Linked DNA regions of Homo sapiens: all the other regions are linked to region 2. Evidence: fine-mapped expression QTL. A gene starts in region 2. Each other region holds a variant in brackets. All regions are shown on one strand. Distances are between the middles of the regions. Region 1 overlaps KDM4C (lysine demethylase 4C). Region 2 holds the start of KDM4C (lysine demethylase 4C). Region 3 overlaps KDM4C (lysine demethylase 4C).

Region 1 (10,861 bases), 420 kb after region 2:
AAGACACTCATTTCCAAGAATTTTGGCCTGTTTTGAAATGTATTTTGTATTTAGTTTATTTATTTATTTTTTTGTTTTGAGACGGAGTCTTACTCTGTCACCAGGCTGGAGTGCAGTGGTGCGATCTCAGCTCACTACAACCTCTGCCTCCCAGCTTCAAGCGGGTCTCCTGCCTCAGCCTCCTGAGTAGCTGGGACTACAGGCATGCGCCACCATGCCTGGCTAATTTTTGTATTTTTGTTAGACAGGGTTTCACCATGTTGGCCAGGATGGTCTCGATCTCCTGACCTTGGGATCTGCCTGCCTCAGCCTCCCAAAGTGCTGGGATTACAGGCGTGAGCCACCATGCCCGGCCTCTACTTAATAAGGGAAATAACTCTTCTTACTTCCTTGGTTGTTGGCTGGTTCCCTTGTTTGTTCTGTTTGAGTCCTTTTCATCTTTTCATGTAGTTAATTGGAGCCTTTAAAAATGGTCAGTGCTGTTTTTTTAATATGTATCATGTTATATTATCTTTCATTAGGTTGAGTTTGAAGATGGATCCCAGATAGCAATGAAGAGAGAGGACATCTACACTTTAGATGAAGAGTTACCCAAGAGAGTGAAAGCTCGATTTGTAAGTGCTGGCAGATGCCACTTGGGGACCTGCCAAGTGAATTCCTTGTCCTCACCTCATGTTTCCCAAGCCCAGCAGGAAACATACTTGGGCTTTTGGATTAATTCTAAAAAAAGCCAATGCAACATTTTCCTTAGTGGAACCTATTGAATGCAAACTTCAAATTCAACCAAAATCGGGGAAATTAATGCATGTGCTTTACTTTTCTTCTAATGAAGTCACATGATGCTTCTTTGTGTTGACATTTATTGGTGCACAAAAATACTTACTGAATGTGTGCTCTGTGTAAAACACCAGGAGCAAACAAAGATACCATCAAGGCATTTGCAATCTTGTTAGTAGAAGCAACATTAAAAGTATTCAGGAGTAGATCAAAGGGGACTCGGCATAATTGAATGTCTGTCTATTCTTTTATAGGTTTTTCATGGATTGACTACCTTCTGTCTCAGAAAGTTACTGATGTTTGTGTCAGTTCATCATTAAGCTAAACTCTGACTTTCATAATAAAAGGGATAAACAAAGCCTAAATGCTAGTTGTGGGAATACTAAAGCAGTTTTTTAAAAAGGAAATAGTAGTTTCATGCCCTCACATACCATTAAAAGATGAACAAACATGGACAAATATTCAAAACTGCAGTCATTGAAAAATATAATTCACAATAATTTAGACTTCATATTATTGTATCATAAAATATTCAGTGGACCCTGAAATGAAGTCAGTTTTATTCATTTAGAATTATATCTATTGTGTCTGTGAAATGATAAATCCTAAATAGAGAAATTTGAATGGATGGGGTTTTTCTGACTAAAATGAAATTTTTTTTCTGAATAATTCAGTTTAGTGAGTGCTTATGATATACTTGTCTGCAGTGATAGAGTCACTATAGATTATTTGGTTATTTTGGAAAAACCAAGGGTTTTCTTAAATCAGGGATGTCCAATCTTTTTGCATCCCTGGGCCATACTTGAAGAAGAAGAATTGTCTTTGGCCTCACATAAACTACACTAACAATAGCTGATGAGCTACTAAAAAAAAAAAAAAAAAAAGCAAAAAAAAACTCATAATGTTTTAAGCAAGTTTACAGATTTGTGTTTGGCCGCGTTAAAGCCATCCTGGGTAGCATGCAGCCGGCGGGCCATGGGTTGGACACGCTTGCCTTAAACGTTCAGTTGTGTATGCAGCTTTTTTCCAGTCAGATGGGATCCTGACAGCAGAGTAACTGCATCAGGTGGGAACTGACTTTCCTCTCAGCTGCATCCTTCAGAGGAAGGTCCTTCAAAGTGAAATCGTCAAGAGGAGTGGTGGTATTGCTGCCCACTCGATGGGAAATGTGGCTCAGAGGGGACCCACACACCTGTAAATAGAGTAACTACTAGATAATGACAGCAAGCAAAGAAAAAATTAAATATTCCTGTTGTAAAGATACCAGCCAAATCTTACCAAGACCGAAAAACCTTAGATGACTTGTCGCTGTTCTGAGACCTGAAATTTCTTGAGAAAAACTTTCCTTTTCGAGATGTTAGAGATAGCTTCGTCTCGTTCTGTATTCCTGTCTTCCTTGGACTCCCCTCTTCCCTGCCTTATTCCCAGCTCCTCCCGCTCCTTTCTTTTCCTTTTTCAGCACCTAGAGATTTAGAGGATGGGGAGTGGAGTAGGTAGCCTCTCAAAGTCTCTTGGGTCTTTCATTTTCTAATCGATGTATGACTAAGCATCCTACCAGCTGAGTCTTGTAGATTTCAAATACTGTTTCTTAATCACATGAGAAGAAAGCTCATTGCTTTCATACTCTGATCACAATCTCTTTGTTTCACAGTAGATTTCGCTCAGATACCAGGATGCCTTCCCCTGTGGCTGTCTCGGAACACAGGTCCTGGATTTTCTAAGGTCTATTTCACTGAACAAGCTCACCAACATTCAATTTTTTTTTTATTCTCTGAAAAAATTTTTAATTAAAAAAAAAGTGAAAATATGTAAATCACATCCATACACTCTGAATGCAGCCTGCTATTCTGAGCGGCTAAGCCAAGTAGAAAATATCTTAGGGAACAAAGGCTCACGGTCACTAAGTCCTGTTGGCCACCTTTATTGAATCAAAGACATACACAGTCTTGTCGTAGCCAGCCTGTTTCTCCCCTGGGTTGGTACATAGCCCTCAGACCCTTGGTTAGTCTGTCCATGATTATTACTATTTTTTTTCCAGTTGGCAAAACAAATCTAATTGGAAAACTCATTGATGGAAGATGTTTTATGGTTAGAAAAGTCTTTTTTGTTTTTTAAGGATGGAGGTTAGCCGCCCTTGTCAGGAGGCCTTGTATTTTAATGACTTCGGCTCACCCAGACACACGCTGACTGGGGGAGAAACTGTTCAAAAGAGCCAGCAGTCCACCTCAGTGATTGTGTGGGGTTCTTTTCCACTCACTTCAGAAGCAGCCCCGTTACCTTTTATTGTCTCACAGAATAACCATAGCAACGGTGCATAATTAGCTAGAGCTCCTGGTAAATCGGTTTTATTATTGTATTTGAGAGGCCGACTTTTGCTGTTTCTGCACAGTGGCAACACTTTCATAGATGTTTTATTTTCTTCTTTGATAACTTTAGCACTTACACAAGTGAAAGATTACTCAGAGGAAGTATTTTGCCAAGAATGAATGAAACAAAAGTGTTTTCTCCTAATGGCAGAGGGAACCCAACCAGCCCATAATGATTTAGTTTTCTTCTCTAGTGAAACTAGGTGGTATGTGGGGGAAGCCGTGGAGGTGGCCTGTTACCCTGAGTAACTGTCCCATGAACTGGCTGGAAACATGAACAGCTTTACGCTTCGGTACATTTTTTGTTTTCAGGCTTCCTTGTGGCTGTTTTCTTGTTTTTCTCTTCTTTACTATGGACCGTGTGTTTTCAAGTCCTAAAGTGTCTTTCACCTCTGCCTCTGCCAGCAGCCAGGGGAAGCAGTCTCAGCACAGTGAAATGTGCTGTGTGTTGATGTCATCAGAAGTCATCCACCTCAGTGAAAACAGCTGCCAGTGCATTTTAGGAGGCAAGATAGTAGGGAATTGGGAAGCAAAAATAGTGCCTACCATAGACTTTAGGCTTTATCTGATTATCACAGAAAAAGCCACATGCCCTCACTCAGCAAACACTTACTGAACAGCAGCCAAATACTAGCCACATTGTTTGCTGTGGGGAACACATGTAAAATTGGGTACACAGTCCCTAATATCCTCACCTTTATGGGGTTCCCCTGATGGGGAGAAACTTACTTGCCCCTTACCTCTACCACTGCCCTCCTCTTACTGAGTGGATGTGTCAGGGCCACAGGAGTCCCAAAGAAGGACCCTTAAGCTTGCCGAGGGCAGAGACAGTAGAATAGAATAACTTTCACAGAAATGAAACAGTGTGTCCAAAGACAGAGAAGCATGGGGCCCTGAGCCAGGCAAGTATGACCAGGCCCTGCAACTGATGCCGTCTGAGCAGAGCACGGGGCAGGCTTCTGGCCAGGTTATGTAGGTCTAGCCTGGGGAGTGGGGATGTCATCTTGAAGGCAGTAGGTTGCTGGAAAATTACAAGCAAGGGCATATGATCATGTAGAGTCTTATAATAAGAGGGCTTTTAGAGAGCTTTCTTCCAGTGGTACTGTGGGAAATAGGTTGGAGGTACAGCATTTATTGCAGTGCTTTGCAGAGGTGAGGGCCTGCCCCATAGGGTAAGGATCAAGAAGAAAGGCTGAAGGGCTTCAAGGTACATGCAGGAGGAATCCTGGACACGGTGGGGAAATGTCTACAGTGCCTTTAGGTTTCTGGCCAATGTAACTGGGTGCATGGGCATGGTGGTGCCTTTTATGGAATGTAGGAAGGACAGCAATGAAGAAGGAAGGCTTTCAGTTCAATTTAGGACAGGTTGATTTGAAGGGCCTCTGAGACAGGGACTTTGTGATGCCTGCTGGGGAAATGCACTTACAGGCCTGAGCTGGAGCAGATGTGAGCATCTCCTGCAGACACTGAAGCCAGGGGTGTGGGCACAAAGGCCCAGGGAACAGGAGTGGAGAGGAGAAGGCCCAGTGCCAAACCTTAGGGCATCGTAGTTGAGCAGATAGTTAAGAAAGGGAACCCCTGAGACATCAAAAGTGAGCAGCCAGAGAAGGAGAAGCAGGAGAGTGGGTTTACAAAATGACAGAGAAGAGAGCTTTAAGCAGTAATTAGTTGGCAGACTAGTCAAGTCAGTTTAGGGATAGGAAGGTGTCACAGGAATTAGCAACTAGGACTTCATTCAGCAAGAACAGTTTCAGGGAAGGGGTGGGGCAGAGGCCCAAAGCTAAGTAGGAGTAAAGGTAACTTAGAGATGACTGTTGACATTTGTCAAAAACAGAGGGGAGATGAAAAATGAGGGAAGTTTAAAACGAGAAGACTTTAATCTTGCTTTTGTTTGGGGAAGGTCCCTGGGGTTGGAGGGTGGGGAGATCCTGGAGAAAGTAGGGCTAAATGGAGCCCCCCACTTTGGGTGGGAGAGGCGAGGGAAAGCCCAAAGCCATGCCTGGGGCCCTTTTA[G/T]CCTGAGCTGGTGACCTGGGCATCTGCACCCTAACCCCAGCTGACCGAGTCAGATCTTTGTCCAGTGTTCTGAAGATCAAATGCCGTGCCCTTTTGCAATATAACACCAGCTGCTTTTAGTCCACAGCCTCTGACATGCGATTTGAAGACACGTTTTATGGAGCAGACATTATCCAAGGGGAGAGAAAGAGACAAAGAGTGCTGAGCTCCAGGTTTAAGAATGAATATGTGGCCGACCCTGTATACCGCACTTTTTTGAAGAGCTCTTTCCAGAAGAAGTGCCAGAAGAGACAGTAGTCTGCATACATCGCTGCAGGCCACAGAGCAGCTTGGGTTGGAAGAGAGAAGATGAAGGGACATCCTTGGGGCTGTGCCGTGAGTTTTGCTGGCATAGGTGACAGGGTGTGTCTCTGACAGTGGTAAATCGGGTTTCCAGAGTTTGGTCACCAAAAATACAAAATACACCCAATGAATTGGACGCAGCAATCTGAAATCATCTCTAGTCTTGCTTTCACTTGTGAGCAGTTGTCTTCTATGATCCCAAAGAAGTTTTCTAAGTGAAAGGAAATACTAGTGAATCACCCACAAGGAAAAGCCACTGCCACAGAGGAGGCGGGTCCCCTTGTGCGGCTTAGGGCCCTGTCAGGAAACACACGGGGACCTCTCTCTCTAGCTCCAGCAGGTGGCACCTCGGTACCCAGCGGGTAGGGCGATAATTTATATATTTTCCACAGTCAGGGAAGGACTCTCACTTATTTGTTTCAAATTGCAGTTTTTATAAAACATTTTTAAAACACAAATGGCATGTATGCTAATGAGATTTACCCGTGTGCTATCTGTATTTCCCTTGTACAGAACTTTTACATTTTTGAATATTCCTATTACTTTTGATTGTGTCTGATGGGAACTGAGTTGTTGGCCTTTGTGAAATGAAATTTTTGGCTCTTGAGAAAGAATTCTTATGAATTGTTATGCGAATTTTATATATTTAAAGAGGGAGATCTGGGGCTGTTATTTTTAAACACTTTTTTTCATAATACATATTCCGAGTAGATATTTATAAAATATATGTTTCTTTCATTATGTGTTTGTAAAATTAGAGTTTAAATAAATATGCTTTGATGCATAGTTTTGAACTAATGTAACATGATTTTTCTTTTTTAAAACAGCCTGAAAATGTACTAGTGTTTAAAAATAAAGATTTCCATTTTCTCCAGTCCTGTCTCTGACTTGCTTATTTGTCTGGGTTTAAACCAGTAGAAAAACAAGTTTATTGGAGAGCTGGCTATCAGGACATACTGCGGCCCAGGTTTTTCAGACCCTCCTTCTGTCGCTGACTTTTTCCATGGTTGTGGCACATGCATGGCGATATTTTTGGAGACAAAGTCCCCTGCCTGCCTACTTCAGTACCAATGGAAGTGTTTTCTTCAACTTCTTCTAGGCCCTGAATACATCTCAGACCCTTGAGTCTGGATCACTTTTCGTTCCAGGATTCCTGGTCCGCAGCTGTCATTAGTAGGAATTAGAGGTCCTCCAGTCCCTCCTTCATTGTATAAATGAGACCCGGAGGATAGACAGGAAAAGGGATGCCCAAGGGCAGGCAGTTTTGGTGACTGCTTCAGTTAACTGGGGCCACCATTTTGCCGCATTGCAAACAATTGCAAAATTGCAAAATCTTAGTGGCCTGCAGCAAAAAGCATTTATTTCTCTCATCTAGGCAGGGCTTGGCTGGACAGCCGTGCTGACCTTGGCTTGGACTAGCTCACACACCTGCTCCGTGGGTCTCCCATCATTCTAGTGGACCCAGTGGGCAGCCCGGATATGTTCTTCTCATGTCAATGGCAGAGGCAGGAGAGCAAGGAAGCCCAGCCAAGTAAGCACATTTCAGTCCTCTATGGGGCACTGGTTAACATCCTATGGGCAAAAGCCCAGAGCCAGGGACTGGGATGGCATTTCAGACTTTTATGGCAAAGGGTATGGGTGTATCCTGGTCCTGAATAGAGAGTGAAGACCAAAACAGTAAGGAAAGAGCCACAGCTAAAACCCAGTTCCCTAGACTGCTCCCTGGCTAGGTGCTCATATTCCAGAGTACCTTGTGGCTGAACTCTGAGCTGGGGTAGAGCCCAGCAGCCTTCTTTTTACAGAGACTAAGCACTCCACATTCTCTACCAGTGTAGTCATATATTTTATCAACTAATCAAGCTTGAATTTTCTATCTCTAGGTTTTGAATGGAACTGACCTGCTCTCTCTATAATATGCCAGGAAAGTAGGCCTGGTTAAGGCATTAAGAGGAATTAATCTAAATAGGATCATTTGTTCTGTACAAGTTTGCCTGTCAGCAAGATTTCTGATTGGCTGCCACAGGGAGAAAATGTGCAGAGGTCTATGCGATCTCAAATACAGCTGTTTTTTATAGTCTCACTTAACATATGTGCCTATAACCAAGTACAGCTGTATATGGCCTTAGTAAAATAGTGCTGGCCACAAATGCACTCTGGCTATTGAGAAAGGCACCTTTGTTTCACTGCATTCTGCATAAAGTGGTTATTAGCTCTATGACCAGACAGACCGTTAAACCATTTTCACTTACTGTGTGGCACCTCAATTGTGATTTTAATTTTTTTGCGTTACACTAGCTGCATGTTTAGTGTATACGTGTAGCATAAAATCAGCTGAAGTCCTTCTAGTATTAAAAAAAAATTGCTTAGCTGTGACAATTCTAATGTAACACTAATTGCAAGCCCTTTCTCTGGAGGTTAAGGGATTAGTAAACACGGCCTGGCATATTTCATAACATTTTAATTCCTTTTTGTGTGTTTGAAATGAGAACAATGTGATTCTTGTCAGTTAACTTTTATTAAAGGACTTTTTTTTTTTTTTTTAGTTCAACTAGAGAGAAATTGAGAAGAAGCATCCACTGAAGTATCACATGGCTTCTTAGAATTTATTACACATTGTTATTGGGTCACAGTATGTGAAAACATGGAGACCGAGAATACAGAACTGTGTAGAAGTGAATGAGTCTGCCACCTCTCCTTGTACCTATCCACTGTGAAACAAGGGCGTTCATGCACACGTTACTGTAAATGCCCTGGAGGCCTTATGAATAATCATTGGAGCAGTATCTGCTGCAAGATAACATTGTGCTTTATTTTTGCCTTTAAGTAAAAGGAATCTGAAATGAAACAATCTTCATTTCAGATATAAATCAGCCCCATAAACTTGAAGCTAACCAGAGATCCTGAGGCATTCTCATTACATGAAGTAATTGGTTGGTTGCAAGACTCAATTGTACTGCAAAGTCTTCCTGAGAATTCAGATGAGCAGTTATCTGAAGAGTTACACATCCTCTCACCCGACATGTTGTAGGAACACATAGCATTGGCCAGTGGGGCGAATGATTTCTAGTCTCTGATGAGGCCGGAACTCTCCAGCAAGTGGGCCTATGACTGAGAAACCCCGGGCAACTTTGAGGTCCCTTTGAGGAAATGAAACTTCATCAAAAGCAGCCAATATTAATGATATATTGAGCATCTATTGTGTACATCCAGTCTTCTAGTCTCCTTGGTGACATTCATCTTATTTAACCTTCCCAGTAAATCAGCAAAATAAGTACCATTACCCTCTTTTATGGAATAAAACTAAAACTCACAGAGGTTGAGTAACTTTTGAATCACTCAACCTTCTCAACGCATGAAGAAAAAATCCGACCCAAACAAGAGACATTGGAGAGGTGAGTCTGAAGCTCAAAAGAAAGGTTAACGTTAGAGATATGAGAGATATGAATGTGAAGGCATTATCTTTATTGGTGGATGTAAAAGTGTACAGGAAAATTATCTCCTGGCAAAGGCAAAACTATAGGCACAGAAAACAGATCAAGTGGTTGCCAAGGACGAGATAGGGGAAGGGATGACAACAAAGAATGTAAGGGAACATTTTGGGGGTGATGGAGATGTTCTTTATCTTGATTATGATGGTGGTAACAAGACTGTATATATTTGTCAAAATTCATAGAAAACACTCAAATGAGTGAACTGTATGTAAATTACACTTCAATGAACATGACTTTTTTTTTTTCCCCATTTTCCAGGCTTATTCTTCTTTTTTCGACTTTTTTAAGTAAGTAAAAATCTAGGGGAATGGAGGGCAGGCTACTTAGAAAACATATCACATGAAAAAAGAAATGAGCAGAGATCAGAATCCTGGAGAACGGCAAAACATAGTTGGGTAGGAAAAGAGGATCCTGTGCGTGAGGGCTGAGAAACTCAGTGAGGTGGGAAACCCAGGATGCTATGGTTTCCTGGACAGCAAGGGAAGAGCATGTTTCAAGAAGAAGCAGTGGTCAAAGCAAAAAGAAAACGTTACCAACTCCAAGGAAGATTATGTAATTGGGAGAAAGGAGTGCAGAACCCCACACGCAGTCCAGCAACACAATGCTGGGAGGTGGGGAGGGAAGCCTCGTCCTGGGTCACTTGCTGCCACCAAGTGTGGAGGGGAATCCCAGACTTCCTGTTTGGTCTTTACTGACACTGTGGAAGCAGGGGCCATGCCTTGCGTTTGATAGGGGTAGGAGGAGTATTGTCAACGTTTTTGTTTTGCGAGATTGCGCCTTTCCCTGTTCTTTGACTAGACAGAATAGACTTTTCCTAGGGCTTTTTTTCTTTTTAAGTTGTGTTTGCTTGTTGGTAGTTGCCATTTACAGGATTTTCCGGTTCCAAGTCCAGGAAATATGGGAGATAAAAGGAAAACGCAGAGAACTGAACCCTGTTCACACAGATTCCTTAAATCCTGAAGTCCTTGTTAGTCTGCTTTCCTCCTTCAACACTTTGTAGTTCTCTTAAGTTTATTTGTTGTACTATGTCTAGGATTTTAAATTATACTTAGCCAGGGAGAAACAAGCCCAGAACAAGAAGTCCTCATTTTTTCTTTTTTTGTTTTCTTTGTTGTTGTTGTTTTGAGATGGAGTCTGGGTCTATCGCCCAGGCTGGAGTGCAGTGGTGTGATCAGCTCACTGCAACCTCTGCCTCCTGGGTTCAAGCGATTCTCCTGTCTCAGCCTCTCGAGTAGCTGGGACTACAGGCATGCACCACCATGCTTGACTAATTTTTGTATTTTAGTAGAGACAGGGTTTCACCATGTTGGCCAGGCTGGTCTCGAACCCCTGACCTCAACTGATCCGCCCACCTCAGCCTCCCAAAGTGCTGGTATTACAGGATTGAGCCACTGCACCCGGCCACTTTTTCTTTTTGATAGGAGAAAATATTTATTTCTGAGGGAAAGGATCTAGTTGAAGGGCAGAGATGGAGAATCTAAACAATAATTTCTGGAGAAATCCCAAAGGGAGGGAAAGGGATTAGGAGCAGAGATGGAGTTGCAGGTTTTACACAGGAAAGGGGAGATTTTATCCGAGAAGACCAATTTCCTGATTATAAGAACAGAGAAGGCAGATTATAGAATTGTTCCAGAAGGGGGTATCCAGGTGGGTTTGATGTAAAGAAAAGAGTGTGAGAGAATTGAAGATGCTGGAAAGAGAACAGTTTCTTTCAACTCATTTTTGGGTTGAATAAGAAAGGTAGTTGATGTCAAGAGGGGACTCACTGGGAGGAGAGAGAAGAATCTCTAGGGAGTGGAAGGCCGTGGGAGACTGGATCATGGCTCCTAAAGATGTCCACAGCCTCATCCCAGAACTTGTGAATGTTACCTT
Region 2 (10,861 bases):
GATGGAACAGGATAGTTGTTCACAATAGTCAGCTCAAGGCCCCTAGAAAATGTATTATAAAGCTGCAGGCTGAAAATTGAGCTCATTGATCAGACAGAATACCTTCTGGAAGAATTTGAGTAGAAAAGAAAAATCAGAGCAATTAGGTAGGGAGAAAGGGAAATATTAAAATCAGTGAATTTGATAAATTTGAGGTAAACTACAGAATGTGAAAATATCTTACAAGGCAACATTTTGTTCTGCAGAAGAAAGCCCATGACAATTAGGTTCTTGTTTGTGATACCAAAGGAGCTACTGCTGGAGAGATTAAGCAAGTCACATTCCTGAGTTAAAAATTAAGGAGGATGGCCGGGCGCGGTGGCTCACGCCTGTAATCCCAGCACTTTGGGAGGCCGAGACGGGCGGATCACGAGGTCAGGAGATCGAGACCATCCTGGCTAACACGGTGAAACCCCGTCTCTACTAAAAATACAAAAAATTAGCCGGGCATGGTGGCGCGCGCCTGTAGTCCCAGCTACACGGGAGGCTGAGGCAGGAGAATGGCGTGAACCCGGGAGGCGGAGCTTGCAGTGAGTCGAGATCGCGCCACTGCACTCCAGCCTGGGCGACAGAGCGAAACTCCGTCTCAAAAAAAAAAAAAAAAAAAAAAAAAAAAATTAAGGAGGAACAGGTAAAACAAAAAATTGGTAACGTTCTCAAAACCAGGGATTTTTTTTTTTTTTCCGGTGGAGTTTCGCTCTTGTTGCCCAAGCTGGAATGCAATGGCATGATCTCGGCTTACTGCAATCTCCGCCTCCTGGGTTCAAGCGATTCTCCTGCCTCAGCCTCCTGAGTAGCTGGGTTTACAGGCATGCACCACCATGCCTGGCTAATTTTGTATTTTTAGTAGAGACGGAGTTTCACCATGTTGGTTAGGCTGATCTCAAACTCCTGACCTCAGGAGATCCGTCCACCTCGCCTTCCCTGGAATTACAGACGTAAGCCACCGCGCTCAGCCTAAAACCAGGGATTGTTAAAGCAACTTCCAAAAAGTTATATTGTGGTCTCTTTCCAACTAATATATGAATTTTATTTATATATGCCAAGTGCTCTATTTCCTATTATAATCAGAGACTTTATAAAAATAGCAATAAAATATCTGTGTTCCTCAATGAAGATATCTTTTAAGTTCATGCCTGAGGTGGAGGAGCATTTTATCCCTCAGTGATGAAAGATGTCCTGTGATATTCCAGGCACTCTATGATCATTAATGGAAGAAGTGTGCTTGGACTGAAACCCATGCCTCACCCTAGTTCCAGGGGACCACTGAGGAGTCAGAAATAGCAGCTGCTTTTGATCTAAGCTCTGATGTAACTACAATACTAATCAGTATCTCAAGAAGTTCCTCTCCTTCTACCCCAATGGATGGTTTGGTTGACTCTGGCACAAATCCTAATCCTTATCAGGAATGGCCATGATAAGCTCACCTAGAGCAGAACTTCTACCTCTTCTTAGTCAGTTTGGACTGTCTTTCCAATGATAAGGATTTCATGGATCTAAAACTTTTCTTCCACCCTTATTTCTGAAAGTCTTCCAACTCAGGCCTAAGAGTAAGCACACCAGGCATTTACCTGAAATAATGGACTTGTTCCATGATTATTAAATCTATAAACACTGACTTCTATCTTTTATCTATCATGTCTTGGTCTATTTTGTGGTGCTATAATAGGATACCACAGACTGGGTAATTTATTTTTATTATTATTTTTAATTGAGATGGGGTCTCGCTATGTTGCCTAGGCTGGTGTTGAACTCCTGGGTTCAAGTGATCCTCCTGCCTCAGCCTCCCAGAGTGCTGGGATTACAGGCATGAGTCATCTCACCTGGCAGACTGGGTAATTTATAATGAACAGAAGTTTATCGGCTCGCAGTTCTAGAAGCTAGAAAGTCCAGGACTGAGGGGCTGTATTAGGTGAGGGACTTTGTGCTGCATTATCCCATGGCAGAAGGACAAAGAACAAGAGAGAAGAGGATGAACCCATTCCTGCAGTTACGGCATTAATTCATTAATAAGGGCAGAGCCCTCATGGACTAATCATCTCTCATTATTCCTGTATAAGTAACATACATATTTGATAAAGGTAAAGGTAAATAAAAACACTAAGTATTACTATCATTGAATTCTTTTTTTTTTTTTTTTTTTTTTTTGAGATGGAGTCTTGCTCTGTCACCCAGGCTGGAGTGCAGTGGCACGACCTCGACTCACTGCAAGCTCCGCCTCCCGGGTTCATGCCATTCTCCTGCCTCAGCCTCTGGACTAGCTGGGACTACAGGCACCTGCCACTGTGCCTGGCTAATTTTTTGTATTTTTAGTAGAGACAGGGTTTCACCGTGCTAGCCAGGATGGTCTCGATCTCCTGACCTCAGGTGATCCGCCCGCCTCGGCCTCCCAAAGTGTTGGGATTATAGGCGTGAGCTACCGAGCCCAGCCTCATTCAATTCTGTATATTTGTTTTGTTTTCTTTTCTTTTTCTTTTTTTTTTCTGAGATGGAGTTTTGCTCTTGTCATCGAGGCTAGAGTGCAGTGGTGCTATCTTAGCTCACTGCAACCTCTGCCTCCTGGATTCAAGTGATTCTCATGCCTCAGCCTCCCGAGTAGCTGGGATTACAGGCACCTGCCACCATGCCCAGCTAATTTTTGTATTTTTAGTAGAGACAGGGTTTAACCATGTTATCTAGGCTGGTCTTGAACTCCTGACCTTAGGTGATATGCCCGCCTTGGCCTCCCAATGTGCTGAGATTAGAGGCATGAGCCACTGTGCCCAGCTCAATTATTTATATTTGTAAAAAGTGTAGTGTACTTCAACAGATTCAAAATTAGACTATTATTTAGAAGTATATCAATTTGCAGCCAGGGCAGTGGCTCACTCCTGTATTCTCACCACTTTGGGAGGCTGAGGCGGGAGGATCATTTGAGCCCAGGAGTTTGACACTAGCCTGGGCAACATAGTGAGACCCTGACTCTACAAAGAAATAAACAAATTAGCCAGGTGTGGTGGTGTGCGCTTGTAGTCCCAGCTACATGGGAGGCTGAGGTGGGAGGACTGCATGATCCTAGAAGTGGAGGCTGTATTGAGCCGTGATAGTGCCACTGCACTCCAGTCTGGGCAACAGTGTGAAGATCCTGTCTCAAAGTAAAAAAAAAAAAAAAAAAAAAAAGCAGCATATAAATTTGCTGCATTATATATATTTTAAGAAACTTACAAGTATTGGCCAGGCATGGTGGCTCACGTCTGTAATCTCAGCACTTTTGGAGGCGGAGGCCAGCAGATCACTTGAGCTCAGGAGTTTGAGACCCGCCTGGCCAATGTGGCGAAACCCTGTCTACAAAAAATACAAAAATTAGGCCGGGCATGGTGGCTCACGCTTGTAATCCCAGCACTTTGGGAGGCCAAGGTGAGTGGATCACAAGGTCAGGAGATCAAGACTATCCTGGCTAACACGGTGAAACCCCGTCTCCACTTAAAATACAAAAAATTAGCTAGGTGTGGTAGCACGCGCCTGTAGTCCCAGCTACTTGGGAGGCTGAGGCAGCAGAATGCCGTGAACCCAGGAGGCGGAGGTTGCAGTGAGCTGAGATCGCGCCACTGCACTCCAGCCTGGGCAACAGAGTGAGACTCTGTCTCAATTATAAAAAAATGCAAAAATTAGCTGGGCATTATGGCACATGCCTGTAATGCCAGCTGCTCAGGAGAATGAGGCACAAGGCACGAGAATTGCTTGAACCCGGGAGGTCAAGGCTGCAGTGAGCCGATATGGCGCCACTGCACTCCAGCCTGGGCAACAGAGTAAGACTCTGTCTCAAAAAACAAACAAATAAATAAAATAAAATAAAAACAAGTATTGTCTCTGAGGTGATCTGATGATCTGTTCGTTAGTTCACATTACATATAAACTTCAAGGGGAATCTATGTATTGTTCATACAGCCTTCCATTAATATATTGCAATTGGGATTTAAACAATTGAATCTAAATAAAAAATTTACTATATGGCTAAAATGTTTTCACGATAATTCATAATATGGAGGTATTTTGATACATTAGGGACACAAGACTGCCCTCAGTGCCATGAGTCCAGTTGATTTTCTAGTAGGCTCTCTTCACTTTCCAAGACTGTGAAGCACTTAATGGATTCACATAGTGCTTTACAGCTTTTGAAGTGTTTTGACATTTTACATTATCTTCCTTAAAATTAAAAAGTGCTCAGTGAAGTTAGCAAGGTTCGTATATCCACTTCAGTTCTTCAGGTTAAAAAAAAGTCATACTCTAATTCACAATGGTAAAGAAATGTTATTTGTGCATCTGCAAATTCTGAAGAAAATGGATTTCAGGTTTCCAGATTTTTTATTCTGGTGCACAAGATTTCTAATATAGCATATGGCTTCCAAAAGACCCTAGCTGCTTGATTGTGGACATATTTCTTAACCGCTATGCTTCAGTTTCCACATCTGTAACAATGAGGTATTAATAGTACCTATTCATTGAATTATTATAAGTATTTATTAATACATGTGAAGCTCTGAAGACAGTGTGTAGCTCACATTACTGTTCTAAGTAAGTGTTAGGTTGCATATTTATTATTTTAGCATATCCAATTTACTTGTAAGGATGGTTGGGATCCTGACGTTACATGCACACATTTGGAAAATTCCCAGTTGAGTATACGTTAGCCAAGTTCAGAATTGTGTGTGGCCGGGTGAAGTGGCTCACGCCTGTAATCCCAGCACTTTGGGAGGCCGAGGCGGGCGGATCACCTGAGGTCAGGAGTTTGTGACCAGCCTGGCCAACATGGCGAAACCCTGTCTCTACTGAAAATACAAAAATTAGCTGGGCGTGGTGGCGGGCGACTGTAATCCCAGCTACTCGGGAGGCTGAGGCAGGAGAATCTCTCGAACCCGTGAGGCGGAGGTTGCAGTAAGCCGAGATAGCGCCATTGCACTCCAAACTGGGCGACACAGCAAGACTCCGTCTCAAAAAAGAGTGTGTCTGTGTGTGTAGCGGAACTTTGTTTTTAACAACTAAAGAAATATGGTGACCCAATAATCCCGTTAGCCTTAGCTCAATTAATCACATTCCATCTGTCCTCACAATGTTCACCCCAGTGAGAAACGAGTTCAAGCGCGTGGTAAGCGGTGTCGATATATTTTTAAAATTCTGTTATCAGTATAATGTAACAGAAAATTCAGCATATTAGCCCAACTTTGCTCACTGGTGTGAAGATATGCCCAATCTTTCTTAGCTAAGACGTTAGAGAAAACGCCACAAGGGACCCAGCTGGGAGCTCTGTAGGAAGTTTAAAAAAAAAATCATTCAGCTTTGCAAAACATCTGATGCTCAACCATCTGTCTTTGGCAGTACAGGGGCTTAAGGTCTGGTTGGTTCCTTCTGACACCTCGGAAGGCGGAGTTACAGAGGAAAAGCAACAAGTTGTAGGAAGTTAACTTATCTAGTCTCAGACGCTGGAGGCACCTGCATTTCTAGTCACTTCAGTTCTGGCCAAACTGTTATCAACTCTAGTTTCTGAGGGACCGCCAGCCCAGGATTCCTATTGGGGTCACCTTTGTGCCTCCCTATCTTAAGAGCACACTTGGGCGGGTCGGGGCGGGACGTGCTGGGTGTAGGTGACTCAACACCGGACAGTTTTGCTTCCAGAGGCTGACACGCTCCTGCGCGGTAGTTGTTAAAGGGTTGGGACACGAAGATACTCTTCGCCTATTCGGGATCTCCCATTGTGGGAAGGAGGCTCAGTGGTCCCGGCCACCGGGTGAAGGGAGAACGGGAACACAGCGCTGTCATCGCCGGAGAGCTGCGAGCCCCGACTTTCTCGCCAGGCTCTCCAGTACATTCCGAGGCTCCACCCCGGTAACGCCACGCTGACGTCCGCGCGTCGGAGGCCGCCATAGGTGCGCGTCGGCGCCCAGGAGGACGTGTGGCGCGTGGACTACATCAGGTCCAGCCCTGCGGGACCCCAGCCAGCGCTTCCGGGCAAGGTTCTGTGCACCTGTTTTCTCCTTCTACGCGAGTATCTTTCCCCTCCGGAAAGAATGGGATATGCCTGTGTCCAAAGGACAAGAAGATGCGCGCCAGCAAGCCTAAGTTAACCACAGCGCGGAAGTTGAGCCCAAAGCAAGAGCGTGCCGGGCACCTTTAAGCTGTTTGTAAGCCCACGTGACTCACCAAGTGCGGGCCCCAGCGGTCACGTGACGGCGCGCGCGCCCTCGCGCAGGGAGAGCCGGCGGTGCGCGCGCCTTCGCCGCTGCCTCCCACCCACCCCCTCGACGGGAGGGTGAGGCGCGGCGCAGTGATCGGGCGGCCGGGGTCCTGTGCGCGTGCGCAGCGAACAGCTGTCACCTAGTGCGGAACAAGTCTCCCAAATTTCCCAAATCTCCCTGGGCCGGAGGCCACTGTCTTCTCTTCCTCCTCCACCGAGTCGTGCTCTCGCCCCAACCCGCGCGCCAGGTAACCGCTTTTCCGGAGTCTGGGGGCCAGGGCGGGGGGAGGGTCCGGAGAGGTCTTCCCGGCACTGCCCCCCTCCGCGTGGGGCACGGGGGTGCGGGCGTCCGGGCGAGCGGCGACGCTGGGGCAGAGACGCTCCGTCCGTGACTGCAGCGACTGTCAAGCTGGGGAGGGAGCGGCCGGCCGCGGCCGCAGGGGAGGGATGCGGGGGCCGGTGACAGCCCGCTCCGGCCCTTACCGAGGTTCGGTACCCGCGCTCGCCGTTTTCCCGGGATCCGGAGTCGGGGTCGCCTCCTTGGGGCAGAGGAGCGCTCGGGCGGTCCTGGGATGCGGACCTCTTAACGCCGCCAGTCGGCTGTGGCGGACTCCAGGAAGGCCGGGCCTGGTGCACCCCTCGGGGCCCTCCCTTCCCTGGGAGTGTCACGACCCGCGGGGTGAGGGTGGGAGCTCCTCTCCTGACCACCCGTTGCAGGCAGTCATCCCGTCATTCGGGGTCGTCTTCAGCCCTCGCGGCTGTCCTTTTGGTGTTTCTTTCCCCCGGCATGGGGCCATTTCTTCCTGCAGTGCCTGGAGGAACCATGATGCGGTGTAGACGGCGGGTGCTTAAATAAATGCGAGTTGGATTAGGGCGCGTGGACTGCCAGGCACAGAACGTGGCGTGGAGTGGGGACGTGGAGGAGGGAGCCAGACAGGCCGGGGCTGTAGGCAGGAGCTTGGGGTTTTCCTCTGTGCTCCGCCAGTAAAGCCAGCAGCCGGGATTCAGATGCTTTCCGCGTGGACTTGATGCTGGGCTCCCCCTTTGCTGCGCGGTGCAAGCCTGCGCTGGCTGGCTCTGATTGTGGGCAATACTACCGGGAGGGGTTTTGTCAGGTTCCTTCTTCCGGAAGAGACAAGGTAAACTTTTTTTTGCGCTTGATAAACTAACCCCGAGAGGTGATTTATAAAGCACTGTTCGGAAATGTAGGTTAGAAAAGCAGAGTCACTTTTATCCTGGTGAAAGTTACTAGTAGGTTCCGGCCACTTAGGTTCACACTAAACTCTGCCCTATTTTCACCCATTTCAGTTTGCGGTATTTAAAAAAATGTCTAAATTCCGGGCAGCTTGGCTTTACTGTTTCTATGGCAACGGTGACTAATATTCTCATTTCGAAGTGTTGTGGTTGAAAACTAGTGGTTTTAATTTTTAAAGGTCCATTTTTTATTAGGAAGCAGTCGGCTCTGCTTTGCGATTATCGCTTGCTTTCTTACCTTGCTGGCCTCCGCGCAACCCGCCCATAGTTTGTTTTGGAACGGATTACACGGTTGTTCGGGTTTTTTAGGTGCTTTTTCTCCCAATTTCAGTGTTATGAAAAGTTTTCACATAAGCTTTACAGTATCCCGCAAACTTGGTAATACAGTACAATTTAAACCGAAGACTTATTTCTTTTTATTAACAGACTTTAGTCAGTTGCTTTTCTAAAGTTGAAAATCAGACCCGGCGCCGTGGCTCCTGCCTGTAATCCCAACACTTTGGGAGGCCGAGGCGGGTGTATCACCTGAGGTCAGGAGTTCAAGACCAGCCTGGCCAAAATGGCGAAACCTCGTCTGTACCAAAAATTCAAAAATTAGCCAGGCATGGTGGCAGGCGCCTGTAATCCCAGCTGAGGCAAGAGAATCACTTGAATCCTGGAAGTGGAGGTTGCCGTGAGCCGAGATGGCACCACTGCACTCCAGCGTGGGTGACAGACTGAGACTCCATCTCAAAAAAAAAAAAAAGTAAAAATATAAATAAATAAATAAATAAATAAATAAATAAAAGCTTTTAGTAAATGAATAGTCTTGTGCAACCATCACCACAATGAATTTTTGAATTTTTTTAATCCCCAAAAGAAGCTCTGTTCCTATTAGCTGTCATTGCCTAGTTCCCTCCAATTCTATCCCCTTCTGTCCCTAGGCAACCACTAATCTGCTGTCTGTCTCAATAGATTTGGCTATTCTGGACATTTTATATACATGGAATAATACACTATCTGGTCTTCTGTGAGTGACTTCTTTCACTTGGCATAATGTTTTTTAAGGTTCATCCATGTTGCAGCCTGTATCAGTACTTCATTCCTTTTAATGGCTAATATTCTATTATGGATACATCACATTTTGTTTATTCATCAGTTGGTAGACATTTGTGTTATCTCTGCTTTTGGCTGAGTAATGCTATGAATATTTGTGAACTAGTTTTTGTGTGGACGCGTGTTTTCTCTACTCTTGGGTATATATATATATATATATAATGTAATTGCTAGGTTAAACATCTGTTGAATGACTGCATGCGTAAGGAGGGATAGTTAGTCTTGGGTGATACTCTTTTTTATTTATTTATTTATTTATTTATTTATTTATTTATTTATTTTTTGAGACGAAGTCTCACTCTGTTGCCCAGGCTGGAGTGCAGTGGCACGATCTCTGCTCACTGCAAGCTCCGCCTCCTGGGTTCACACCATTCTCCTGCCTCAGCCTCCTGAATAGCTGGGACTACAGGCACCCACCACCATGCCTGGCTAATTTTTTTTTTATTTTTAGTAGAGATGGGGTTTCACTGTGTTAGCCAGGATGGTCTCGATCTCCTGACCTCGTGATCTGCCCACCTCAGCCTCCCAAAGTGCTGGGATTACAGGCGTGAGCCACCGTGCCTGGCTTGGTGATACTCTTTCAAGCCTTGAAGGGGCCTGTTGATCTTTCCCTATTCCACTGCCAACTTCAGTTCTCCAGTTCTCTAAAGTGGGGCTTTATTCTATGGTTAATGCTGTGTTTTCCTTTCCTGGATGTCTTTTTTTTTTTTTTTTTGAGACGGAATCTCGCTCTGTTGTCCATGGAGTCTCACTCTGTGCCAATGGCGCGATCTCGGCTCACTGCAACCTCTATCTCCCAGGTTCAGGCGATTCTCCTGCCTCAGCCAACCCAGTAGCTGGGATTACAGGCACCCACCATCATGCTTGGCTAATTTTTGTATTTTTGTAGAGACAGGGTTTCACCATGTTGTTCAGGCTGGTCTCGAACTCCTGACCTCAGGTGATCCGCCCACCTTGGACTCCCAAAGTGCTGGGATTACAGGTGTGAACCACTGTGCCCGGCCTCTGGATGTCAGTATTAAGATCATCCTGTTCTTTTTTTTTTTGGAGACAGGGTGTAACTCTGATGCCCAGGCTGGAGTGCAGCAGTGACAGTCTCAGCTCACTGTAACCTCTCTGTCTGCTGTGCTCTGGCAGTCCACCAGCCCCAGCCTCTCAAGTAGGTGGGACTACAGGTACATGCCATCATGCCTGGCTGATTTTTGTGGTCTTGCCATGGTACCCCGGCTGGTCTGAAACTCCCGGGCTCAAGCAGTCCGCTTGCCCCAGCCTCCCAAAGTGCTAGGATGACAGGCGTGAGCCACTGCACCTGGCCTGATCATCCCTTCCTGTTAGCACAGTCTTTATACTGCTCATGGTTATTCCCTTGATATTCACTTATTTGCTCTATATTTAGTGATAAGATAGGTACATTCTGTACTTTGATTAAGCTCAATATCTACTGAAAAATGTGTGTTCCCTTTTGTTAAATATTAGTATTTAATGCTTCTCTCCCAACCTCTGTCTCTTTTTTCTTTTTCTTTTTGAGATGGAGTCTCCCTCTGTCGCCCAGGCTGGAGTGCAGTGGCATGATCTCGGCTCACTGCAACCTCCGACTCCCTGGAGTGATTCTCCTCCTCAGCCTCCCGAGTAGCTGGGATTACAGGCACGCCCAACTAATTTTTTTCGTATTTTTAGTAGAGACGGGGTTTCACCGTGTTGGCCAGGATGGTCTCGATCTCCTGACCTCGTGATCCGCCTGCCTCGGCCTCCCAAAGTGCTGGGATTACAGGTGTGAGCCATCATGCCTGCCCATTTTTCTGTTTTTATTATACTTTAAGTTCTAGGGTACATGTGCGCAACGTGCAGGTTTGTTACATAGGTATACATGTGCCATGTTGGTTTGCTGCACTGATCAACTCGTTGTTTACATAAGGTATTTCTCCTAACACTATCCCTCCCCCAGCCCCCCACCCCACAACAGGCCCTGGTGTGTGATGTTCCCCTCCCTGTGTCCATGTGTTCTCATTGTTCCTTCTTTTCTTTTTCAGTTAAAAAAATTTCTGTTTGTAGAGATGGGGTCTCAGTGTGTTGCTCAGGCTAGTCTCAAAATTCTGGGCTCAAGTGATCCTTCTGACTTGGCCTCCCACAGTTCTGGGATTACAGGTGTGAGCCACTGTGCTTGGCCTGCAAGCTCTATTTCTGTTATGAATTTCTTAGGAGGTGTATCATAATTAAAGTCACAGTATCTTTTTTATCGCTACAAATGTAGACCATTTTGTG
Region 3 (10,861 bases), 220 kb after region 2:
GGAAGGTCAGATGGGGCAAAGTATCTGAGATAATTCACTAATGGTTCATTAAAATTAGAATAAGAAATTCAGGGCCTGTGTGGTGGCTCACACCTGTAATCCCACCGCTTTGGGCGAGGTGGGTGGATCACCCGAGGTCAGGAGTTTGAGACCAGCTTGGCTAACATAGCAAAACCCCGTCTCTACTAAAAATACAAAAATTAGCCGAGCGTGGTGGCACATGCCTGTGATCCCAGCTACTCGGGAGGCTGAGGCAGGAGAATCGCTTCAACCAGGGAGGGAGAGGTTGCAGTGAGCCGAGATTGCGCCACTGTACTCCAGCCTGGGTGACAAAGTGAGACCTTGTCTCAAAAATAAAATAAAAAATCAGTTAGGGGATTATACCTTTTTTGTTTTTTGTTTTTGAGACTAACGTATCTGAACTTGCACAGATCTATGTGATTATGAGAGTGTAGTCTGAGGAGTTAGAATAAAATTATGTGTCAGGCCTAATTAATGATTTTGGCCCTGTTAGTTACCACCACCAGACATATTCTTGGTTAAATAAGAGGTTACTTTGATGCTAACACTTAGCAGTGCTTTGTTACTTCTTACTATAGAAATAATGAGCAATTATGAATTATGAAGTCATAATACAAGTTAGAAATAACTGTTAATAATAGATTCTTAATTCTTACTGTCTTCACTAACATTAGGGTTATTAGAAAACAATGAGATATAGAATGTCTTCCATTTGTCCATAATATTATATATATAGTACTATTCAGAGGGCAATTTGTATTAATAACATATAAACTGTTGGGTTCTTAAAGCCATTGAACATTTTGCATTTTAAAGTTTTATACACAGTCCCATGTTTTTATACCTTATATATTGGGGGATGTTAGGCACTTTCGCTTTGTGTTGGATAGAATATAGAACAGATGCCTTTTTCATGCTGTAGTTCTGATCTAATGTGATTTGATTGTGCCTCAAAGATAATTAGCTGATAGCCTTCAAGAGCAATAACATTTTTGGGAAAGGAGAGGCTAGAGTTTGATTTAAAAATTTAGGGTGTTTAAAACTAACTTTTGCTTTTTAAATTATCCATTCCCATTTCTTAAGGAAATAGCAATAAATATGTTGTTTGATTTTTTTTTTGGCATAAGTCATTTTTATCGGTAAATACATTTTTGGTGGCTACTGTAAAGGGCAGTATTTTAGATCTAAAGGATAAGATAGGACAGCATAGGTCTAGAGATATGATATCTACTCAGGCATCACCAGAAGACAACAATTTGTGTTTCATTTGGGCTTATTTGTTTTGAGACTGGATTATGAGATTAATTTTTGTATTTTTGGTAGAAACGGGGTTTTGACATGTTTCCCAGGCTGGTCTAGAACTCCTGGGATCAAGCCATCCACCTGCCTCGGCCTCCCAAAGTTCTGGGACTACAGGTTATAGCCATGTGCCTCGTGTCATTTGGACATATTTAAATCTTCAAAATAAGAGTTTGCCATCGGCTCCTCCCTTCTTTATGATTGTCCTGTTCAAAAATCTAATTGATCTTCTACATTGGGTTCTTTTCATAATTGTTGGAAAATTAGTAATTTTCTATGAAAGACAGTAATTCTTTTTAAATTTTAAATATTATCCTCTTTAGGTTATAATATGATATGTTCGAAATTCACTAGAGTTTTATTTTATGTAAGCAAGAAATCAACTTTTTCCCAGTATGTTCTGAAAGTTATTCTTCAATCCTGAGATTCAAGTGGATATTATTTCATGTCTCCCAAAACCACATACATGTTGCCATGTAATACCAAGCTCTTATGTTAAAAGGAGGCCTATTTTGTTTTTTAAATACAGTGGAGAATGAAGAAGTCACATAAGTCGAACCCCTGCCTCCATCTTATTTTACTTTACAGCATCCTACCTTGGACACCTGGGCAGTATTAATTCATGTTATGGACATTTCCTTTCATTAATGCCTGTCATCTGCTGGGCCTCCAGTTTCAGTTGTTTGCTCTAGATGTGAAGCCATGGAGTTGAGTCTGGTTGCAACATATGATCCAAACAGGAGCTTGATGTACACTGCTGTCACCTCTCCTGTGACAATGGCCCAGTCCTCTAGGGTTTTTTCAATCCCCCACAAGTCTGGGATTGCTCCTCCTGTTTGATTCTTCAGAACCACTATGCACTTACTTCCCCTTGACCCTTAAGACCATTTGTTAGATGCAGTATTCTGATTCTTATTTCTTTTGTTGCTTCCACTTTTTCAGTAAGGCAAAATAAGATAACACTAGAAACCTCAATGTTCTTGTGGTCAGGTTACCAAAAAGCAATTTGTATAAGCCATATTCGGCCTTTTAAAAATAGGCACTTATCTAGCATTTTCAGCAACATTCTACAAGAACAAAAAGTTTAATTCTATTGTCAGCCCCATGAGGATAGTTACCACTGTTACTCTCAGTTTTTCAGATGGAGAAACTGAGGCACAGAGAGGTTAAACAAGCTGTTCAAGATTTCATAGCTTGTCAGTGTTGAAGCTGGGGTTTGAATTTAGTCTTTTAAACACTATTTGCATTGTGGGTCTTACAGTTTCTCAGCAAATTGATATGATGTAATCTTTTTCACATCTTCCATTGCATAATAATTCCAAATAAACTTTAAAGGTGTAATCTTTTTATATTATCTTTTATACCATTACTGAGATTGTAATTGTTGGTGGGTTTAGGTTATTTAGAAAAATTTAGTATAGGTGGGTTTTCTGGTTGATTTAATCCTCAAGTAACAAATCTTACGACACATGGTGGCATGTTTCTGTACCTCCTGAAGGGTAGTTTGTTAGGGCTGTTGTAATAGCCCAGTGAGGTTCTGTCCACTCAGTCGTTCTGCATCTGTGGCTTGTCCTTGGAGTCATTCCTTTCTTTTTTTCTGTCTCTGTTCCTTTCAGTTCAGGCTGGCAGCATTTCTGCTGGTATAAAAGTCTCAAAATCCTTGTCAGTCTTCTGTGTAGTTCATGGACATCCAAGCATCAAGCAAGACAGTCCTGCACAGCTCTCTCCTGGATAACCACATTCTCTCTTCCTGGCTTCTGCTGACATGGTTGATTGGATCCACGAGTCACATACTTCATCTGTTTAGCAAGTTTGTCCAGCAGTACCATCCTCCAGTCTCGGAGCACACTCCTCTTTGACCATGGCTTATCTGCTGTTTCTGTTTAGGCTTCATAGCATCATCTGAGCAAACAAGATGAATATTAATAAGGTCAAAGGTTTTTTTTTCTGAGACACTTTCCTCAGAAATAGTGTTCTGTACCTCACCAGCTTATCTGCCCTAGGGATGTTGCAATTGTAATCATGATCAGGCCTAAATCAGCTCATTAAAGTGGGGAGCATCACTTTTGTTCACTGTTTATTTTTCTTTGTGAAGCAATATTAGTAACACTTTAAGAAAGTTTCTGGTTGTAAGTCCAAGCTTTTTTCCCCCTTTTGTCAAAAGATTACATCTTAATCCAAAATATCTTTCAATTTCTCAGGATCTTCATTTTCTTTATTCCAATGGCAAGATAATTATGCAAGGTAACTTAGAAACCTCATTATATGTAACCAATAATAGAAAGCAGTGGTGCAGATAAATAGTATTAGGTTCAGAGGAACAGTTGGGACAATTTATATTCAGAGCCGAGGATGAAGTTTTGCTGGATAGCCGGCTAGTATGCAGGAAGGTGGTGTGGTAGGAGGAAAATACTGAAGTAAATGAAGCATAAGGGGCATTTGGGCTCCCATGACTTGGGTTGAAGAGGAATATACATGTTGACTTGCTGTGGGAGAGAAACCTGAAAATCTCATTGGTGGAGTAAAGTCTTGGAGCCCTTAATGCCAGGCTCATAAATTTAGACCTTATTCTAGGTCTAAGAAAAGCAGGGTGATTACACCTTATTGAACTCAGGAATGAAAGATTGTAAGAGATTTGGGGGAGACGAAAGTAACAGCTATAACGATGGATTATTGTTAGGAGAGACTACAGGCAGGGAAATTAGCCTTGTTATGCTAGGATTCAAGGCCTGGCAGTGCAGCTGCAAGGATGCTGGCAGAAGGAATTGAGACAGGAGATGCCGTAAATGGAGACAAGGCTGAATTTTTAGGGGTGAAGACATAGGGAGTGTCTAGGAATGTGGACTATGTATGTAGGAGAATAGAAGAACTGTGGTATCATTTGGTAGCGACAGAGTGTGGTTTGAAGTTGAAGACATTAATTTTAGGTATTTTGAATGTAATGGCCATTAGGATGAGAACTCTGTGGTGGGAGTTTGGGTTTGGATATATTAAGACTTTGGAGTTAATTTGCATGGAGGTGATAATTGTATCACCAAGATATCTAAAGTCTTATTGTGTCAAAACTGTTCAGTCAGTCTGTTACCGGGTATGTTAGGGATTGTCAAGGTCTATCAGTTAAATCTTGGAGATTATTTATGCACCACCATTTGAATGATAACTTCCCTGTTGCGTAGTGCTGGCCTAGACCTGATAAAACTTTGTGTGAAGTCTTTATAGAAAACTTGCTTAATAAGATGTGACTGATAACTATGTATTCATGAGAATTAAAGGCATAGTAGATTCAAAATAATTTTTTCTTTGAACTTCTCACCTTTACCCCATGTCTTCATTTTAGTGGATATGTTTGTTGTTGTTGTTGATGGTATTGGATGTTGTATGTGATGTGATGTAGAAAAGGCTGTTCATTTGCTCCTAATTTTGGGTTACCTTATGAGAGTTCGTTAATAACCATAAATATAATAAAATATATCTTAGAGTAAATTTATCTCAACTCACTGGTTAAAGTATTCTAATCACACATTCATTGGGTTATTTTATTTGTTGACAACCCAGGTTTTCAGCTTTACAGACCTTTTAGCGCTCAGTTCATTGACACATCATTGTGATGGGCAAATAATCTTTCCATTGCAGGCGTGCTTCCAAATGAGCACTCTTTCCTTTTAGTTTTTCTTAGTACATAGTTCCCTGTGAGGTCCACAAACCATTATAACCACATTATAAATGTGAATATATAGATTCTCATCTCTATTCAGAAGAAATTGGGTTTATCACCCATTGAATGTTTGATAATGTAATGCATTATCCTCCATTATGTAGTGACTAAGTATTCATGGATGATGTGTTCAAGGACCAACTCTGTGTTACTGTATAGTTAGCGAAACGTTTAACACTCTCCAACCCGGTTGTGTTTCAGTGCACTTGCAGGAAAGACATGGTGAAGATTTCAATGGATATCTTTGTGAGGAAATTTCAGCCAGACAGATATCAGCTTTGGAAACAAGGAAAGGATATATACACCATTGATCACACGAAGCCTACTCCAGCATCCACCCCTGAAGTAAAAGCATGGCTGCAGAGGAGGAGGAAAGTAAGAAAAGCATCCCGAAGGTAATGACCCCTCACCCCACTGACCTGCCTTGCCTGTCGTGTTTTCTCAGTTAAAATGGGTCATTGGATGTGGCAATTTACTTGCTTTTTCTATTTATTCATCATAACTTAATACCTTTCTGAAAATGTGAGACATTATTTTTAATTCTTAGGTGTGTAATAAATACAATATAGGAAGAGATGTATATTTATTTTGTTTGAGAATATTCCTGAAGTTGCTCGACATGGCAAATAGAACAATATAGAACTTGTTAGACCACTTACATGAATGTGTTTTATGGTTGTATTATTCCTTTCTGTGCATTTCCATATTTTAATCAATAACTTGATTTTCCACTTTTTCATTTTGCCACCATTTTGCTTTTTGGCTTTAGTGGTTATCTTCTTCATTTGTCCAACATCTGAGCTACTGCTCTCTTCTGGATGCTTATATTTTACTACATTTTATGCACATGGTTTTATTCTTTTGTAAGATGTAAAACACAGCATATAGCATTTCTGTAACATGCTTATCCTTGTGAACTTTATTCTCCATTCCATCTTTGTGGCCAGGATCATTTCAAAAGCTTTTAGATGTGCTGTGGGCATCTTGTTGTTTTAAAACCTATTGAATAGGGTGTGTGTGGTGTTGCTCAGGTCCTTAGGCTACCTTTTAAGGGTCTTATGTTTTCCAATTTTATGTTAAATTTTCCTCTTCAATATTACTC[A/C]TTGTTTTTCTTTCAGATTATAAAAGTAATATTTGTGCATTGGAGGAAATTTGTAAAATAAGGAAAAGAATAATGAAGGAATCCCATATCACTCATAACCTCACTATCCAGAGATAACCAGTATTAACATTTTGTATATATCCTTTACCTATATATTTATTATATATTTTATAATATTATATATCTTTCCAAAATTGGGGCCATGCTCTGTTAATAATCTGACAATCAGTTTTGAGTGTTTTTTTCATGTAACTGATTGATTTGCTGCAACATGATTTTTAATGCCTGCATGTATTTAATCCCCTGTAGCTTGTGTCCACTTTTTTGATATTAACTAAGTAACACCATAATTTTACATCTTTGCCCAGACTTATGATGCTTATTTTCTGTCTTTTTTTTTTCCCTGATATTTATTTTCTGCTTATTTAGAGTGGTAGTGAGTGGAAGAACCTTAGGAACATGGAGTCAAACTTCGGCATCTTATAAGAGGTAGACCTGAGGTGCAGAACTAACTCAGGTGTTGATATTTCCCCCTGTAGTTTACCGCAATGATCGTCAAAGTGTTTGTTAGTAGGTCAGGACCAACATTTTAAAATGAGGTGGTAAAATAGAATAAAAAGTATTATAGTGCTTCCTCTGTGGTAAGGGCAAATATTCACTCATGACATGTGTGAGTATGTGTGTATGTGTGTATATAGTGTCACTATCTGAAATATATAACTCACTGTGGGTTACATTCAAGAAAAGTTTGAGAAATACTAATTTGGACAGTCAGTGTCTTTGATAACTGTGTTAATTCACAGCACTAAAGAAGCCAGCGCTGGAAGGAGGCAGTATCCAATCCTGAGTTCAGAATACACACCAGGAGAACATCTTGAGCATTGTTCTGTCATGGATGGAAAACACAATATTTTCATTAGGTGTATGACTTGGTTTCCAGGTATTAACCACAGTGGGCCTTTTGGGTTGATAGAGAACATGGATTTATGACACTTGAACAGATCAAAATGCTTGTCAGTAGGTTCAAATAATCAATGGAACTTGCTCACCTACTTAGAAAGCCTGACTATGGGCTTGTTTAATATGCTCAGCCTTGTGGCTTGATATTTAGAGATTATTGATCTCCCTTTGGAAATAGCCCATTTAGGGAAGTCTGATGAAGGGAATGATTCATTGATGTCTCAAGCACATGTCAGCCTTCTTTTTTTCACATATACTACACTGTTTATAATGTTGAGATTTTCCCACATCAGCCAATGCATGGATTTGCAACAAAAGCAATGATGGTGATGATCATACTACTGCAGTTACTGCCATCAGTAGCAGTGAAAGCTAATTTATATAGGTTATCGCAGGCCACCCTATTCTCTGCCCTCCCTGACTTCCTACAGTGCTTAGTCCTGTGGTGGTTTCTTGTGTGTGTATAATACATATGGGTGTGTTTTGGACACTGTTGCTTTGAGTTGATTTGTAATTGTTCCTAATTGTTAGGAATGTTTGTTTCATATGTAAAAAGCATATATGCCAAAGCTATCAAGTGACCTGCTGGAAAATACTCAGGAAGAAGATAAAAATTGTGTTCACTCTGAAAATAGTATGTTGATGTACGATGTTAAATACATAAAATTAGGCTGAATGTGGTGGCTCATGCCTGTTATCCCAGCACTTTGGGAGGCAGTGGGGGAGGATCACTTGAGGCCAGGAGTTCTAGACCACCCGGGACAATATAGTGAGACAGTGTCTTTATGACACACACACACACACACACACACACACACACACACACACCAGTTAGCCTGTGTCTGTTTTAAATCCTTTCGCTATTGATGAATTGGCATTTAATTTGAACTATTTTCATACATACCTGACAATTATACAAAACTCAATGAAAAGTAGTCAGTAGTTTACCTTGAAATATAAAAAATTTACTTTTAGCACTAGCCTAACAGGATATTCTGATTTTTATTTATTTTCTTCATTTTCTAAATATTTTATTTATTGATTTTATTTCTGTCTCATTTCAACATTTTTTACTTTATTTTTATTTTCAGACTTTTAAAATGTTGTCACAAAATTTTAGGAATGGCCCTTTTTCAAAATAATGTTTAATAATTATTTACAGTTGTGTGAATTTTAAAGTTTTATTGATTGATAAGAAAATTGTGTTTAAGATTTTGATTTCAAATTTAATCATTCAGTTGTGAACATTGACTTGGCATAGTGATTAACAATGTCAGTTGTTTCCTTCTTTAAGCAAGTGAAAATGACATTTATATTGGGATGTGTTTTTCATATCCATTGCAGACATCCCGCTCTGACCACTGCTTCTCTTGTTGACAGCTTCCAGTGTGCTAGGTCTACCTCTAAAAGGCCTAAGGCTGATGAGGAAGAGGAAGTGTCAGATGAAGTCGATGGGGCAGAGGTCCCTAACCCCGACTCAGTCACAGATGACCTCAAGGTCAGTGAAAAGTCAGAAGCAGCAGTGAAGCTGAGGAACACAGAAGCATCTTCAGAAGAAGAGTCATCTGCTAGCAGGATGCAGGTGGAGCAGAATTTATCAGATCATATCAAACTCTCAGGTGAGAAGATGGTTGATTAGGTTTCACATATAAGTAGTAGGTGGTTGATGATCAGATGTCTTAAATGGATGTTCACTATGACAAGTATCTGACTAGTCCACATAGCTTAATCAGTAATCTACCAAAGTCATGGGTAACTCAACCAATAGTCCCAGGGAATATTGTAAAAGTCAGGAGCCTCACTGCTATGTGTAGCAGAATTGTGAGACAAGCAGTCAGCAGTGCCTATTTGGTTTAATAAAAAAGAAGATTCTAAAATGAGTTTTTTTTTTTTCGTGCAACTCAATTTACAATATACGTTTTTGGAAGGCTTCTTTTGAATTCACATGAGTAGAGAAAACCAATTATAGATAATTCTTTGTAGATTCTTAGCTTTCGACTTAAGAAGAAAATAAAGATCAAGGTTTTAAGAACAACAATAATGAAAAGTCAACCTAGTGAAATGACATGTATAGTCCCCTTGCTTCTCTTTTGTACTAAAGCCATTGTCTGAAAATCTCAGCTACTTTGCCTTTTCTCCCTTTGGTAGCATATTTTTCTGAAACTGCTTTAGTGATTTGCCTCTTTCATATTTGTTGGAGTTTTTGTATTGTAATAAGCTAATTCCTGTGTTCCTCTCATACTTCTCATCCTGTAAATCCTTCCTCATGGGATTCCCCCCTCCGCCAGAATCCGACTCCCTCTGCTGCTTCCTCCTCACTCATGGCACCATAGCTGTTGCCTGGATGACTGCAGCAATTGCTTCCTTCTTATTCAGGAATGTCAGCTGTAGTCACCCCCGCTAGTCAGTTCTCCAGGTGGCCATTAGAGTGATCCTTTAAAAGAAAAAAAGCTTAGGTCTTGTGACTACCTTCTTCTTAGTATTATTCCACCTATAATAAAAGAAAAAGTCTTCACATAGTCCTAAACTGGTCCTCAGCTGCTACTCCAGCCTCATTGCCTTTGCTCTTGAAATAGCTGTGTGGATAGAGTTTAAACCACAGAACTTTTAAAAAATGAGTTCATGTTTTAGTGGAGAGCTAGGCAAATAACCACATAATTACAATCCAATGTGGTAAGTAGCATTATAGAGATTGCATAGGATGTTGCTGGTTTACCAAGGAAGGACTTCAAACACACAAGAGCTGGATAGCCAAGGTTTCTTGGCAAAGGTGATATCTGAATTGAGTTTTGATGAATGGATATAAGATAGCAAGGCAGAGAAGGTAGGGAAGGGAATTACAACAAATGCAGAATAGAGAGTTAGGCAATACATATGGATATTTCACTATAGTCCCTTTTTTTAAAATTTTTAAATTTTTTTTGAGACAGAGTCTCTCTCTGTCGCCCAGGCTGGAGTGCCGTGGCACAATCATAGCTCCCTGCAACCTCTGCCTCTCAGGTTCAAGCGATTTTTTTGCCTCAGCCTCCTGAGTATCTGGGACTAAAGGTGTGCACCACTATGCCTAACTAATTTTTATATTTTTAGTAGAGCTGGGGTTTCGCCGTGTTGGCCAGGCTGATCTTGAACTTCTGGCCTCAAGTGATCCACCTGCCTTGGCCTCCCAAAGTGCTGGGATTACACACGTGAGCCACCGTGCCCGGCTCCTCATCATGCTTTCTCTTACACTGTGTTTAATTAGCCAGTTTATGAATTGCTGGATGGTTTTGCCTAAGGGCCCTGAATTTCATTAGTTCTGTCACTACATGGTTCTTTGCACATTGATCTCCAGATTTTGAGCCCTGGCATAATACTTGAGTAGAAGAACTGGGTTGTTCAGTATCAGAGCTAGTATGTGATGGGTACAAATGAGGTTTGTTTTGTGTGTGTGCATGTATGTGCATGCGCATGCGTGTGTATGTGTGTGTAAGATACAGAATCATTTGGGAATAGTTTACCAATTCTACTTAGTAGTAATACAGTGCATGATTTATTAACAGTCTTCTGTTTTATCCTCAGGAAACAGCTGCTTAAGTACATCTGTAACAGAAGACATAAAAACTGAGGATGACAAAGCTTATGCATATAGAAGTGTACCTTCTATATCCAGTGAGGCTGATGATTCCATTCCATTGTCTAGTGGCTATGAGAAGCCCGAGAAATCAGACCCATCCGAGCTTTCATGGCCAAAGTCACCTGAGTCATGCTCATCAGTGGCAGAGAGT

Evidence for each region. PIP is the estimated chance that this variant, and not a neighbour inherited with it, causes the effect.
Region 1: its variant is fine-mapped to the expression of KDM4C in T cells (TOPMed, PIP 0.90).
Region 3: its variant is fine-mapped to the expression of KDM4C in whole blood (TOPMed, PIP above 0.99).

Annotation. Positions count from the first base shown.
Region 1 is chr9:7,169,277-7,180,137 of GRCh38, forward strand. KDM4C (lysine demethylase 4C) reads left to right here. Exons shown (of 22, transcript NM_015061.6): 21 at 522-614; 22 at 5,277-6,372. The coding sequence ends at 5,453. Among named protein-coding and RNA genes, the nearest start is that of KDM4C, 420 kb to the left of the region's middle. The variant G/T (reference allele first, on the strand shown) is at 5,157.
Region 2 is chr9:6,751,706-6,762,566 of GRCh38, forward strand. It overlaps KDM4C (lysine demethylase 4C), which reads left to right and starts at 6,268. Exons shown (of 22, transcript NM_015061.6): 1 at 6,268-6,498. RefSeq lists enhancers at 4,359-5,070, 5,802-6,161, 7,362-7,581, 9,620-10,302 and silencers at 6,202-6,441, 6,532-6,701.
Region 3 is chr9:6,975,689-6,986,549 of GRCh38, forward strand. KDM4C (lysine demethylase 4C) reads left to right here. Exons shown (of 22, transcript NM_015061.6): 9 at 5,237-5,430; 10 at 8,478-8,716; 11 at 10,656-10,861. Among named protein-coding and RNA genes, the nearest start is that of KDM4C, 220 kb to the left of the region's middle. The variant A/C (reference allele first, on the strand shown) is at 6,138.